2 separate regions of the Homo sapiens genome follow, and region 2 is linked to region 1. Evidence: fine-mapped expression QTL. Tissue or cell type: whole blood. Region 1 holds a variant in brackets; the other region holds the start of a gene. All regions are shown on one strand. Distances are from middle to middle.

Region 1 (8,244 bases):
CCAAAGTGCTGGAATCACAGGTGTGAGCCACCGTGCCCGGCCAAAAAATACTTTTATCACTCCCTCGCTGCAGCTGTCTATGACTTTCTCCAGGGGGTAAATAATTCACATACACAGCCTGTGAAGGCACTGGCATTATGGACCTTGGGTTTCCAAATAACACTGAAGAAAGCGAGTCCATGGAAAACTGATAATCAAGAAGCTTTATTACTTCCAGGATTGCTTATTTTTAAAACCCCTGAAAGGAAAATGGCTTTAATTCAGAAACTGGCTTGTGGAGTGGTGGTGGGGCAGCGGCGAGGCAGGGTTGATACAACGGCAACTGGAGGAAGAAGTTACTGTGAGGGGAGGCCCACCCGCATCCGGTGCCCCAGTGGACTGGTGCCACCTCAGCTGGCATGACACCTGCTAGAGCTGTGGGTATTTCTCCTATTCAGGAGCTCTGGGTCTGTTGATGCCCGCATATGTGAATTGGGCCCCAGGGCTCTATGCCACGGCCTGGAAGAGGCTTCATGTCAGAACTTGATGGATGGGGGTGGGATGGGGGTGGGAGGGAGGTGGGGCAGGCACTATGCCAGGAAAGGTCAACAGAGTCTTGTTGTGCCTGGGAGGGAATTTGGACTTTATCCTGAGACAAATGAGGAACTGTTAAAGGGTTTCAGCCAGGAAAAGGCAGGATAATTTTTTTTTTTTTCTGATAGAGTCTTGCTCGGTCACCCAGGCTGAAGTGCAGTGGTGCAATCGTAGCTCACTGCAGCCTCTGCCTCCTGGGCTCAAGTGATCCTCCAGCCTCAGCTTCTCGAATAGCTGGGACCACAGGTGCATGCCCCCACGTCTGGTTTATTTTTTATTAATATTGTTTTGTAAAGATAGGGTCTCACTGAGTGCCCAGTCTAGTCTCAAACTCCTGGTCTCAAGCAATCCTCCTGCTTCTACCTCCCACAGTACTGGGATTACAGGTATGAGCCACTGCAGCCTGCCCAGGATAAGATTTGACTGAGAAAATACATAATGAAAAAATGCTGGGCACAGTAAAACTTCAGTGACTCATTTAAAGGAAGCTATACTGTATTCATCCCATCAGCAGCTACATAGATTATGACAATGTCCATATGTAGGCAAAAGATATTTTCATTCTACAGACAATACTTAGGACATGTAAGGATTTAGGAACATTTGGCAAAGACTCTGTGCCCTAACCCCCCACTCCCCTAGGACTCAAGACTTACGGGTTAGGCATTGCTGATCCAGTTAATGGCAATGCTAAATTGTTCTTTTTTTTTTTTTTTTTTTTTGAGATGGAGTTTCGCTCTTGTCATCCACCCAGGCTGGAGTGCAGTGGCGCGATCTTGGCTCACTGCAACCTCCACCTCCCGGGTTCAAGCAATTCTCCTGCCTCAGTCTCCGGAGTAGCTGGGATTACAGATGCCTGCCACCACGCCTAGCTAATTTTTTGTATTTTCACCATGTTGGCCAGGCTGGTCTCGAACTTGTGACCTCATGTGATCCACTCTCCTCAGCCTCCCAGAGTGCTGGAATTACAGGTGTGAGCCAGTACCCCCAGCCTGAACTGCTCTTTTTGACAGCAATAAACAAGTTCAGCTTCATCCTTCCTTAGGTTGGTAAGACCGTGTCTCCAACATCAAGGGAAAGCATGCCTTCCTATTTGTTATAAGGGACCCACAACCAAGTTGCCATTTAAATATATGTGAAAAACAAAAGAGGATCTAATACCCAACATGCATTTATACTATTTAGGACTGTTAGCAAGACTCTATTGCCCATGTGATTTTATAAATAGTATTATGACAACAGTTTTGAATGTGTCTGACTGCACATTGACTCATTTAATCCTCACAACGTCTGCTGGGGTAGGTGCTGTTATTGCAGTTGGCATAAACTACAATTAATTATGTAATTTCTTGTTGAATATTCATGTTCTGTGATCAGTTCCATGAGAGCGGGAAGCTCGTCTTGTTTATCCTTGTATCCCTGGTGCCTACAACAGGGCCTGGTATGTGGCAAGCATTCAAAACGTATTTACTGAATAAATTTCGTATTCCCCTTTACAAGTGAGGACAGAAAGGCTTAGAGATGTTAAATAGCTTACCAACCTTTAGGTCACCAGCTAATCCAAACTCACATCTGTTGAACTTTATCTTCTTACCAGCTCTCAAGTAGTCTAAGGTTTTATAAAGATCACATAGCTTGGTCGAGTTCCTAGCTATTAAGTAGAAAGTTATTGAGAGATTAACAAACACTTTTTTAAAGATTCTTCCTTTGTTTTTAACCATTCTGAAAACATAAAACAGAATTCAGAGGAGAGCAGTAGTGGAATGGTTATGTTTAAACTTGCCATGTTTCATAAAGACATTACATTGAGAAATTCACACCTGGCATTTGAGAACAAAAGCTGGCGTAGAACTTGGAGGAAGTATTATTAGGAATTCACCCAACTAAATCTTCCTAAGCTTATTATCTATAAAGCTCATGTTTTATTAAAATATAGCTCATATGGCTTTATAGCTCTTTCTCCTCAACTGAAATCTTTGGTGGGGTGGGGGGCGGCCTCCAGTTTTCATAGGCCACCTGGTATTGATCATTCTTACCTTACTTGGTTAAAACAGTTGGCCAAGGAAGCCTAGGTCCTGATCCCAGCCCCTTCACCATACCCAGCCCTGCCTCGGTACAAATTTCCTTACAAAATGCCCAATACTCCAAGGCCTCTGGAAGAAGCATGGGAAACTAAGATTACTGTTTTCCATAGGAAAGGTATTGAAGTAACTTTCACAAGCTACCTATGGTAAAAGAGGGAATATAAAGATTTGGAGAAAGGGCTCTAGTGGGAGTAAGTGACAAGTCCTGGCCTATTCCCATTCCATCCCATTTCTAGGCAGGAGTCTAGCCAAGCTGCCAATCGGGCCCCCGCCAGACAAGACAAGAGCAACTGATGTGTGAACATGCAGGTGTTACCCTGCCCAAGAGATGAGCCCAGACCTTGTCTTGTCTCTGGGTTCCATCACCCCGAGTGTGAAGAGAATGGGGAACTCCAAGAAACCAGCCTGAGACTTCATACCTTCTCTCTCACTGCAATGTGGGCAGAGGCCCATGTGCAAAGGTCTCAGGAACTTGAATTCCCTGTAGTTTTAGTAACTAATGTTGGTATAGATTTTGATGGTACAACATTTTTTCACATGCATCTTTCCACTGAGGTTGATATACAAATATTACCGTCCCCAAATTAGAGATGAACAAAGAGATTTCATTACTTGTCTAAAGCTGTATCACTCCCTGCATATCCAGCCTCCTGGTGGACTACTGTTCAGTCATGAGTTTGGGTTTTCTCCCTCTTCAAATCAATCATCTGTGACTTTTACATCACTAGTGCTCAATCTTTGGTGGACGCTACGTAGAGAATCTAAGCAACACTTTGGGTTGTCTTTCCAGAAAAAAAGCACATCTATACACACACACACACACACACACACACACACACACACACATCTGTTAGCTCTCAGGACTTTTGGTGATCCCCTGGCGACCATGGACACAGGGCTGAGAATTCTTCTTTTATAAATAATGTATGTGAGACCAAAGGGACATAATAACCAAGCACAATGTGTAAACCATGATTGAATCCTAGTTCAAAAATTCAGCTATGGAACACATTTCAGGGACCACCATAGAAATGTGAATATGGTATATATATTAGGTTTCACTATGGAATTTTCTCAGGTGACTTAAGGGTAATTTTCTTTGATGTGATAATAGTGTTTATTATCAGAATATCCTGATTTTTAGGAGATGCCTAAGTATTTTGGGGTGAAGTAATATGAAGTTCTCAACATATTTTCAAATGGTTCAGAAAAAATATAGAAAGAAACAAGATTGAACCACATGAAAGTTGCCTACATATATTATGTATATATTTATATTTATATATATATATATATTTATATTTATATATATATATATATATATATATTTTTTTTTTTTTTTTTTTTTTTTTTGCGGGGGATGGAGTTTCGCTCTTATTGTCCAGGCTGGAGTACAATGGCAGGATCTCAGCTCACTGCAACCTCCGCCTCCTGGGTTCAAGCGATTCTCTTGCCTCAGCCTCTCGAGTAGCTGGGATTACAGGCATGCACCACCATGCCCGGGGAATTCTGTGTTTTTAGTAGAGACAGGGTTTCTCTATGTTGGTCAGGCTGCTCTTTAGCTCCCAACCTCAGGTGATCCACCCACCTCGGCCTCCCAAAGTGCTGGGATTATAGGCATGAGCCACTGTGCCCGGCCGATTTAACCTAATTTATAAAGGAAATA[T/C]TGTAAACTATTAAAAGTAGTTTAATCTGGGTGGTGGTATATGGATGTTAATTAAAAAGTTATTTTAACTTTTCTGTGCATTAGAAAATGTTGCATGATACATAAATTTTCATAATAAAATGTGGGGGGAATAGTTTCTGTTTCTTTGTGATAGCTCTCAAATCTGCCACTATATTAGTTACCTATTGTGGTGGAACATAAAAAATTACCCCAAAATTTAGTGGTTTAAAACTACAAACATTTCTGGGTATAATCAAAAGAATTGAGAGCAGGGACTCAAAGAGACATCACACACTCATATATTCATAGCATCATTATTCACAATGTGCAAGAGAGGGAAGGAACCCAAGTGTACCTCCACAGATGAGTGGATAAAGAAAATGTGGTATATACATACAATCAAATACTATTCAGCCATAAAAAGGAACAAAATTCTGACATGTGCTACAATCTGAATGAACCCTGTAGATAAGCCAAGTCACAAAAAGACTAATGCTATATGATTCTATTTATATGAGACAGCTAGAGTAGACACATTCATAGGGACAGAGAGTAGAATGGTCGTTGTCAACAGATGGGGAAGGGGAAACGGGCAGCTATTTTTTAATGGGTAGAGTTTCAGTTGGTAAAGATGAAAAAGTTCTGGAGGTAGATGATGGTGATAGTTGCACAGCAATGTGAATGTATTTAAACCACTGAACTGTGCACTTAACAGTTGTTCAAATGGGCCAGGCACAGCTAGGTGTGGTAGCTCGTGCCTGTAATTCCAGCACTTTTGGAGACCTAAGCGGGAAGATCACTGAGGCCAGGAGTTCAAGACCAGCTTGGGAAACATAGTGAGACCCCATGTTTACAAAAATTAAAATTAAAAAATTAGCTGGGCTTGCTGGCATGCACCTGTAGTCCTGGCTACTCAGGAGACTGAGATGAGAAGATCACTTGAGCCCAGGAGTTAGTGAGCTATGATCATGCTACTGTATTCCAGCCTGGGAGCCTAGGCAACAGAGCAAGTGCATTCCAGCCTGGATGACAGAGCAAGACCCCAGCTCAAACAAACACACACCACCACCAACAACAAAAAACCAAGAAGCCTCAAAATTCCCATCTAGTTACTACATATAGGTCAAAGTTCAGTATCTTTGGGTGGCACAAAGGTCTTCTGAGCTGGTGACTTATAAACTAAAAGACAATCCATCCAAAATAGGGACTGAGAAGAATAGGTTAACATGATTACAGCTCTCATTCGGCAAACGGAGGAGTGGGAAGCATGCAGTTATCACTGCACCAAGTCCAGCTGGGGAGGAGTGGAGGCTTCTAGCCACTGGTGTCACTGGCACCTTGGGTTCTTGTAATCCTCCCAGGATAGAAATAAAGAGAGATCACCAGACACAGCAGCAAAGAAAAAGTTTATTTTAGCTTGTGCACAAGGGAGCCAGCAACAAGAAAGGAGAAGGCACAGGCTCCTCCCCAAGGGTAGTCTGTGGGTTAGTCTTTCTATAAGGAAGGGTCACGTCAGGGCATGTAGAGGAGGGATTTTTCTAGTGCTTGTGCAGTGCTAAACATGCTTCTTCATACATTGTATGTAGCATTAGCATTTTAAATCTCTACCCCTGGGCATTATTTTTAGCATTAAAATAAGAAACAGGTAACTATAGGTTGTAGTTTAAGTCTAACGGCACATACAGGGCCCCAGAGAAATCCCTAGCCCCCTGAAATAGGAGCTTGTGATTAAGGGTTAATGGCTTCTTGAATCTTTTGTTACTGATTGGCTGAGAGTTAGATAAGCTAGAGCTTGAGTGAGAAGCTGTTGTTTGTTTGTTTGTGTTTGTTTGTGTGTTTGTTTTGTAGGGACAGGGTCTCACTAGGTTGCCCAGTCTGGCTTTGAACTCCAGCAATCCTCTGGCTGAGGCCTCCCAAAGTGCTGGGATTACAGGGACCAGTCGCCACACCTGGCCCATGAGACAAGGGCTTTTACCCTCTTCCTCCAGACCATCTTAAAAGAGAGAACCAACCAGCTTGCCTGTCCACTGGCAGTGGGGTAAGCTGCCTGGTAGCCCATCTGGCAGCCCCAGGTTCTCCCATCTGGGAGAAACAACCTAGTCTATCATCCTTTGTGGCCATGCCTCTGCCTTCTCTGAGGTTCCTCCCTGTCCCTTGTGCCCCATGGCCACATCTGAGTGGGCATGGAAAGTATGCTTCTTGGAGCTGCACAGCGTTTACACTCTGTTTACTGCTGGTGCCGATTTAGGGCCTGGGGTATGCTTTAGGGAGCTGAACTGCCACAGATTGTGGCGGACCAGTCTTGAAATTTCTTTGGCAGTCTTGAGATTTATCAAGCTGTACTCTATGGCTTGTGGGCTTTCATGTAAAGATGTTATAATTCAATAAATAATTTAAGCAGAGTGTGTCTTGGAAGCAATGGAATACAGTATGTCAAGGGAATGGCCGAGCGTGGTGGCTCACACTTATAATCCCAGCACTTTGGGAGGCCAAGGCAGGTAGATCACTTGGGGTCAGGAGTTCGAGATCAGCCTGGCCAACATGGTGAAACCCCGTTTCTACTAAAAAAAAATACAAAAATTAGCCAGGCATGGTCGTGGGCACCTGTAGTCCCAGCTACTTGGGAGGCTGAGGTGGGAGAATCACTTGAACCTGGGAGGCAGAGATTGCAGTGAGCCAAAATTGTGCCATGGCATTCCAGCCAGGTGACAGAGTGAGACCTTGTCTCAAAACAAACAAGCAAACAAACAAACAAACAAACAAACAGCATATGAAGAGGAGACAGATGGGCAGAGCAGAGACAGCAACTGCCAGATGAGGGTCTCTAGGGTTAAAACAAATAATCTTGGTTCCAAGCGGAAGCAAAAAGTTTGGGAGCCCAGTCAGTTTTCAAGGAAACTCTTGTTGTGTGTGGTTGTTGTGTGTGCTAAAAACTACATTATTTTAAAACCATCAAAACTAATCTATAATGTTAGAAGTCAGGAAAGTGATTACCCGTGAAGGAAGTAGTGACTAGAAGGCTTATGTTATGGCTGATGTTATGTTTCTTGATCACATGGTGTGATCACTTCATGAAATTTTATCAAGCTGTACTCTATGATTTATGTGTTTTCATGTACATATATCATCCATATTTTTGTGTGTGACTGTGATTTATTTATTCTTATTGCTGTCTAGTATTGCATCATGTTAATATTACCACAAATTATGGATCCATTCCACTGTTTGATGGGTGTTTGGGGTAGTCACCAGTTTAATAAATAGCGCTGCTATGAATATTTTCAGGTTTGTCTGTTGATGAATTTATGTACATGTTTCTGTTGGGTATTGTTCCAGCTACCTATTGCTGCATGACAAAGTGTTCCAAAATGTAATGGCGCCAAACAACACTCATTTTATTATACCCATGGGCTCTGTGGGTGAGGAACTTGAACGGGGCATGGAAGGTATGGTTTGCTCTGCTCCACCTTGCCTGGGGCCTCAGTTGGGAAACCCAGGTGGCTGGGGGTGACTTAAATGGCCAGGGCTGGAGTCATGTGGAGACTTCTTGCTCACAAATCTGGTGTCTGGGCTGGAATAACTCGAAGCCTGCACTCACCTGAGACTAAACCTCAGGGTCTCTCTCCCCAGCCTGCCCCTGTGACTTAGGCATCCTCACAGCAGGGTGGCCTTGATGTGGTCAGACTTCCTACCTGGAGGGTCAGGAATGTAACAGCAAGTATTCTAGAAAGAAAACAGGCCGGGTGCGGTGGCTCACGCCTGTAATCCCAGCACTTTGGGAGGCCGAGGCAGGTGGATCACCTGAGGTCAGGAGTTCGAGACCAGCCTGGCCAACATGGTGAAAACCCTTCTCTACCAAAAATATAAAAAAATTAGCTGGGCATGGCAGTGGGCGCCTGTAAACAAAACTGCACATACCCA
Region 2 (6,601 bases), 280 kb after region 1:
CCTTTGAGGAACGCACAAGCCCAGGAGTTCCAACAGGGCTGCAGTGGAGGCTAAGTTGCAGCAGGACTTTTGAGCAAGCATGCACACAGGCCAGCAAGAGCAATTGGAGGCTATGGTGAGCAGGGAAGGTTCGCGGGAGGAGGGGGACCGGAGCTGTTCATCGAAGGGTGAGGAAGAGTGTGCGTTGCAAAGGGGAGCCGTGGGAGACCTGGGAGCAAAGGCCAGAACTTTAGGGTTCGAGGCTGAGCAGGGAAACGACAGGAGAATGAGGGCTCCTCTTTGGCAGCACACACCTGGTCTCCAGGACAGAGATAAGGTGCAGGAATATGCAGGTGTCCAGGGAAGACGATGTCTCCGGGAGCACATGCTTTATGATGCTGGCACCCACCTTGGTGGCAAAATGAGATTTTGCATTTACTATATTCAGAAAACTGCATGCCTCAGTGTGTGTGTGTGTGTGTGTCTATGTTTGAAGTCTTATGTCAAAGTCCTTTGACATCCATCTCTTTGTCCTTTCCCAGCTACCCTGAGAAGGTTGGCTGGAAATATCCTCAAAGACAGAAAAGAGTGACGGTGGGAGGAAACGTCTTGCTCGTGGTCATGGGGTTCCGTCGTTGACAAACCAAGGCTCAACCGGGGCTGCTGGCTGGAGCTCCATGCTCCTGCCCCCAAAGCTATGCCCAGATCCCCATCCCACCTCCCAGCACCCTGCGTGCCATCTGCCTCCTCCACCCCTAGGCATTCTCCCATGGAGGAGAGAAGCACTCCACTCTGTGTGAGCCCTTGTGTTTTCATCAGAGTTCAAGGCCAGGGTCAAGGGTCCATCTTCTCCCAAACCACCTTGCTGGCTTTTAGTGTCCACCTTCCTTAAGGAGTAACAGTCACAGAGAAGGGACCAGCAAGGAGTGAAGCCCTGTTCTGAGCCTCGGAAGGGAGCGGCTGGGAAGCAGTCCTCTGGCAAGGACATCTGAGGGCCTACTAGTTTGACCCCTTCTTTCCAGAATCTCCAGTGGAATGGCACTGATGACTGAGGGTCTGGGGGGTCTACCTCTGCCCCTTGCCAATAACCGTGGGCACCTGCAAAGCTCTCACCTGGTGCCAGGCACTGCTCTGAGTGCCTTGCGCATACACGCTTTTCACACCGCCTGGGGAGGAAGGTACGATTATGACCCTCGTTTTACAGGTGAGGAAAGGGAGGCACAGAGAGGTTAAGTGACTTTCCCAAGGTCATTCAGTGAGTGGCAGAGCTGGGGTTTGAGCCCAGGAAATCTGCCTCAAGTAGCTGTTTTGCCTCAATAAATAATACTAACAACAACCACAGCTACCATTTGACGACCCGTTCCTATGTGCCTAGTGCTTTAATTCCTCAGAGCAATGCTGTGACTTAGGCGTTGTTCTCCGAATTTCTCATTTCACAGATGAGTAAATCCCGGTTTAGCAGGGCGCCTGGAGTGAGGTGACTGCGGAGGCTCGCAGACGTTAGGTCTGCCTAAATCCGAAGCTTCCACCCTCCTCTGCCTCTGTGACTTGCTGCGTGACTTTGGAGCTTTCGGAAACTCAGTTTCCCTGTCTTAAGCCCTCTGCTCCTCTTGCTTTCCCGCTCCAGCAAGTGAGAGTGGACTGGGTTGCCGTGCCGGGCGGGTGTGGGTCGCCGGGCAACTCCGGAGTCTCCCCTTCCCCATCGGCCCCCAGCAGAAGTCCCAGCTCCCGGCGTTTTCTGTCTCGTGGCGAGTTGGGGCGGAGGGAGCGGCGGGAAGGTGCCGGGTGGGCAAGGTCGGAGCTGCGTCACCGAGAGGCCGGCAAGGCCAGGGAGAAAAGGCCCCGCTGTGATTTGGGGAAGGGCCGGGGGCCCATAAGTCACGTGCTCGGGGCGGTTGTGCAGGAGCGGACTGTCCTCTGGGAACATAGAAGCGCCCCCGACTAGAGTAGGGGCGGGGAGGGAGCGCCGGAGGAGGCAGGTTCTGGGCCAAGGGGATGGGGGTGGGGGGGAGGTAGGGAGCCCGCGGACAAAGGAGGCGGCCGGCGGCCCAGCTGTTTTGAAAAATGCTTCCTGTTTCTTTAAAGGCGCTCGCGGCTCGGGCGGCCCGGGCTGGGGAGGCGGTGGCGGCGGGAGCTGCCTCCTCTCCGGGCGGCGGCGCTGACTGATCTCGCGAACTGGGCTTCTGTGTAAACTGAGGCTAAACAAACACAGATGGAGCGCAGCGGGCGTTCTCCAGAAATGCTGGCAAGGAGGCAGCGACTTCAGATGACACTCTGAGCGCTCCGGGAACGGACAGCCCGGCGGCTTCCCGAAGCCGGCGGCGCAGCTGCCCGGGGCGAGGGGGAGAAAGGGAGAGAGGGAGGGGGAGGGCGGGCGAAGCGGGAGAGCCAGAGACTCCTCGGCGCTGAGCGCGGCGGCGGCCCGGGCAGCCCCACGCCCCTGCCTCGCGCGCCGCCCGCGCCATGAAGCACATCCCGGTCCTCGAGGACGGGCCGTGGAAGACCGTGTGCGTGAAGGAGCTGAACGGCCTTAAGAAGCTCAAGCGGAAAGGCAAGGAGCCGGCGCGGCGCGCGAACGGCTATAAAACTTTCCGACTGGACTTGGAAGCGCCCGAGCCCCGCGCCGTAGCCACCAACGGGCTGCGGGACAGGACCCATCGGCTGCAGCCGGTCCCGGTACCGGTGCCGGTGCCAGTCCCAGTGGCGCCGGCCGTTCCCCCAAGAGGGGGCACGGACACAGCCGGGGAGCGCGGGGGCTCTCGGGCGCCCGAGGTCTCCGACGCGCGGAAACGCTGCTTCGCCCTAGGCGCAGTGGGGCCAGGACTCCCCACGCCGCCGCCGCCGCCGCCTCCTGCGCCCCAGAGCCAGGCACCTGGGGGCCCAGAGGCACAGCCTTTCCGGGAGCCGGGTCTGCGTCCTCGCATCTTGCTGTGCGCACCGCCCGCGCGCCCCGCGCCGTCAGCACCCCCAGCACCGCCAGCGCCCCCGGAGTCCACTGTGCGCCCTGCGCCCCCGACGCGCCCCGGGGAAAGTTCCTACTCGTCAATTTCACACGTAATTTACAATAACCACCAGGATTCCTCCGCGTCGCCTAGGAAACGACCGGGCGAAGCGACTGCCGCCTCCTCCGAGATCAAAGCCCTGCAGCAGACCCGGAGGCTCCTGGCGAACGCCAGGGAGCGGACGCGGGTGCACACCATCAGCGCAGCCTTCGAGGCGCTCAGGAAGCAGGTACCCGCTCGCCGCCGCACGCCCTCACTGCGCCGGGGGACGACTGCGGGAATGGGTGGGCGAGTGGCCGGGGCGGGATAGAGGTGTGTTTAAGGGGCAAGCTGCCCCGCCCGGTCCGACCCTGGTGCCCAGACAGGTGTGGGCAGTCCTAGGGTATGGATCATAGTTTTCAAAGTGGCTATAAGAGTTGGTTATCTCTGGCCCGAGCACCCCCCGCCCTCAACCCCCGCCTCGGGGGTAACGCTGTCTGCGCTTCTGACTTCAGCCTCCATAGTTCACTTTTATGGCAGCGAGTATTTGCCTGCCGGAGTCCCCTGGGCGCGGTGCGGAGTGGAGAGGGGAAATGTGGGAATCTGTCAGCGGAGGAAGGGGGGAGCCTTCTCCAGTTGGTGGTGGCAAGGTCCGGAACGCTGCGGTGGGACAGTCCGGGGGAGTTGTCAGCCCCTCTTCAGGCCCCAGCGGTGATGCCCCGAACACTCAGGTTGCTTCCGGGCTATGCACTCCTTGCCCTGGCATCCTCAAGAACCCGCGCTACAAGCCTGTGCCCTCTCCCCAGGGGTGGGCTCAGGAATCGGCTGGTGGGAGTCTTTCTAGCAGATCCCTTCCTTTCACCCGTGGTGAAGCAGGCAGCTCTGCCGAGGGGACTGCCTAGGTTGGGGATTCCCTCTGGAGCATCTTCAGAGCCTAGTTCTGGGGTGGGTCCGGGACTTTTTAGTTTGGGGCTGGTGCGGGCTGCCCTCACCAGACAGTGCCCCTGCGCAGGTAGCGGAAGAATACTTAACCCAAGAATTACCCGTGGTGGGGCGGGACAATCGCTTGGGCTTCTAGGCTTCTTATTTTCTTAGCGAGAAGGAGCTCTAGGAAGGAGGTGGTGAGTTCTCTCCCACCCCCACACAGGGCGTGGGGAAGGGTTAGGGTAGATGTGGCTGGTTTGAAGGGTGTTTTTTTTTTCTTTTTATTTGCATACTCTGCAGCTGACTTGCTGTGTGACTCCAGGAATGTTGCTCAACTTCTCTGGGCTTTATCCAGCAACAAAACATTTCAGAAACCATGATCTTCTTTTTGGATCACTCTCCTCTTCCTGCTGGGGGTTGGGGTGGGGTGGGGCAGTAGTGCCTGTGTCCATCCATGGAAAGGAAATTGAATCCTTGGAGGAAAGAGGCCCTATGACTTTTGAGCCAAAGTGTCTTGCTTGGGCTTGGGGAAAGTGGTCAGTGAGGTGGGGTGGGGGTGGGGGTGGGGGACGGGTGGCTGTCACAGACCAGGCTGGGCCTCTGCCCTCATCCACACCAGCTGGAACCCTGGGCGGTGGGTCCAGTGGAGCAGTCAGTCCCACCCTGAGCCAGCAGCTCTGTGTCTGCATCGCTGGGTAGAGGTGGCGGTGCGTGGGGGATCCTGCAACCCACTCCCCAGGACAGAAGGATAACAGAAGGGCAGAGAGATGCCTGTCCACCTGCCCACCTTGCCACTAGGGAAGCCCCTCCTAGACTGGGGAGGCACGTGCCCAGAGCCTCATAGCTGTTGAGTAGCAGGTCAGGGCTGGCACCTAGGGGCTTTGACTGCAGGTTCTGGGCCCTTGTGCTCCTCTATTGCCTCTGTATGCTGAGAGAATACTCATCTGAGTGCTTTGTTACATCTCATGTGCCCACTGACTTTTACTTCATTCAACAATCAATTCCATCTCATTTGATCTAAACATAATCCCTGTCGAAATTGGATTAACTCATTTTATAGTATGGAACACTGAGGCCCAGAGATGGAAGGAGACTTGTCCAAGGTCACCTAGTGGGTTAGGGAAGATAACAGCAGTTTCTGGAATGCCCTCCTGGCCAAATGCTTCCCACAGTGCCATCTGTATCAGCGTCATGTGCCACCCCCCCAGCCCCCAGCCTGTGATGTTTGTTAACAATCAAGGCAGGGTGCACACTTGGCAGACCCTTTGAGATGAGATTGTTCATCCTGGTCTCCTTTTACTTCCCCCCTTACCGTGGGAAGTTCTCTATAAAAAGGGCAAGTTCAGTGTATCTAAGTAGAAGGCACACCCATGCCCTCTCAGGGAGAGCGTGTGTATGCAATGCAAACACACAGGCAGGTACACACACACATGCTCCTTACACGTGCTCAAGAGCACACACAAATGCATGGTCACAGAAGCACCTGTTCCTGTTTGTTTCCTCCTTGCCCTAGCCATTCTGCCCCTTCCCCAGAAAGGCTGCCAGGCCATAGTGGGCACCTGCCTGTTAGCTGGGAAGGAAAGAAATACAGCCAGGACGTTTCTGGTCATAGAACCAGGGGCCAAGGCCACACCCACCATGTCCTCCTCACCACCATGGCACCCATTCGATAGAGGAAGTCCTGTGTTCTGGAGGAGCCCCTTCCTCCTCTGGGCCTCAGTCTTCTCTGTAAAATGTACTCCGCACCCCCTCCCCGAATCCAGACGAGCTGCAGCTCTGGAGCTAGGCTCGGGCCTGACTGAAATGGGTCCTTGGAAATGGACAAAAGGCAGATCAGCTCCGCCTGAAATGGGGCCTTGGCCAGTGTGGCACTGAGATGGGTTCTGGGATTGTGGCTCTGGCCTGGGGCTTCATTCTCCTGAGCAGCTTCCTGGTACCATGAAAGAAGCACTGATCTGGGAAACTGGAGGCCAGGCATTGAGTTGTTCCTCCCCTGCATGCCTTCTGTGTGGCTGTGGACAAGTCACTGACCCTTTCTGGGCCTCAGTTGCTGAAGTTGTAAAATGGTAATATTGCTGACCTCATCCAGTGTTGAGAAGAGAAAGTGAGGAAAGGTAGGAGGCCTATAAGAGCAGTGAACATTTCTTTCATTTCATTTTTTTTTTTTTTTTTGAGACAGAGTCTCTTTCTGTTGACCAGGCTGGAGTACAGTGGTGTGATCTCAGCTCACTGCAAACTCCACCTCCCAGGTTCAAGTGATTCTTCTGCCTCAGCCTCCCGAGTAGCTGGGATTACAGGTGCGCACCACCACACCTGGGTAATTTTTTGTATTTTAGTAGGGATGGGGGTTTCACCATGTTGCCCAGGCTGGCCTCGAACTCCTGGGCTGAGGTGATCCACCCACCTCTGTCTCCCAAAGTGCTAGGATTACGGGCATGAGCCACTGTGCACAGCCAGAGCACTGAACATTTCTTAAGCATCTCCAAGGTCCTCAGGGCTGGGCAAGGCTCTCGACAGATGAAGCAATAAGAATTCTTTAATTGTTTTAATAACTGTCACAGAAATTAGCATTCATCACATGCTTACTTTGTGCCAGGCATGGTGCTAAGCTTGTTATGTGTATTAGTTCATTTAATGAAATAGATATTATTGCACCCCCTGCCCTGTTTCACAGATGGTGACACTGAGTTTCAGAGAGCTTATGTAAGTTGTCCCGG

Evidence for each region. PIP is the estimated chance that this variant, and not a neighbour inherited with it, causes the effect.
Region 2: ATOH8 starts here. The variant in region 1 is fine-mapped to the expression of ATOH8 in whole blood (GTEx, PIP 0.99).

What each region holds. Positions count from the first base shown.
Region 1 is chr2:85,470,605-85,478,848 of GRCh38, forward strand. No RefSeq gene overlaps it. Among named protein-coding and RNA genes, the nearest start is that of SH2D6, 56 kb to the left of the region's middle. The variant T/C (reference allele first, on the strand shown) is at 4,324.
Region 2 is chr2:85,751,748-85,758,348 of GRCh38, forward strand. It overlaps ATOH8 (atonal bHLH transcription factor 8), which reads left to right and starts at 2,244. Exons shown (of 3, transcript NM_032827.7): 1 at 2,244-3,210. The coding sequence starts at 2,443.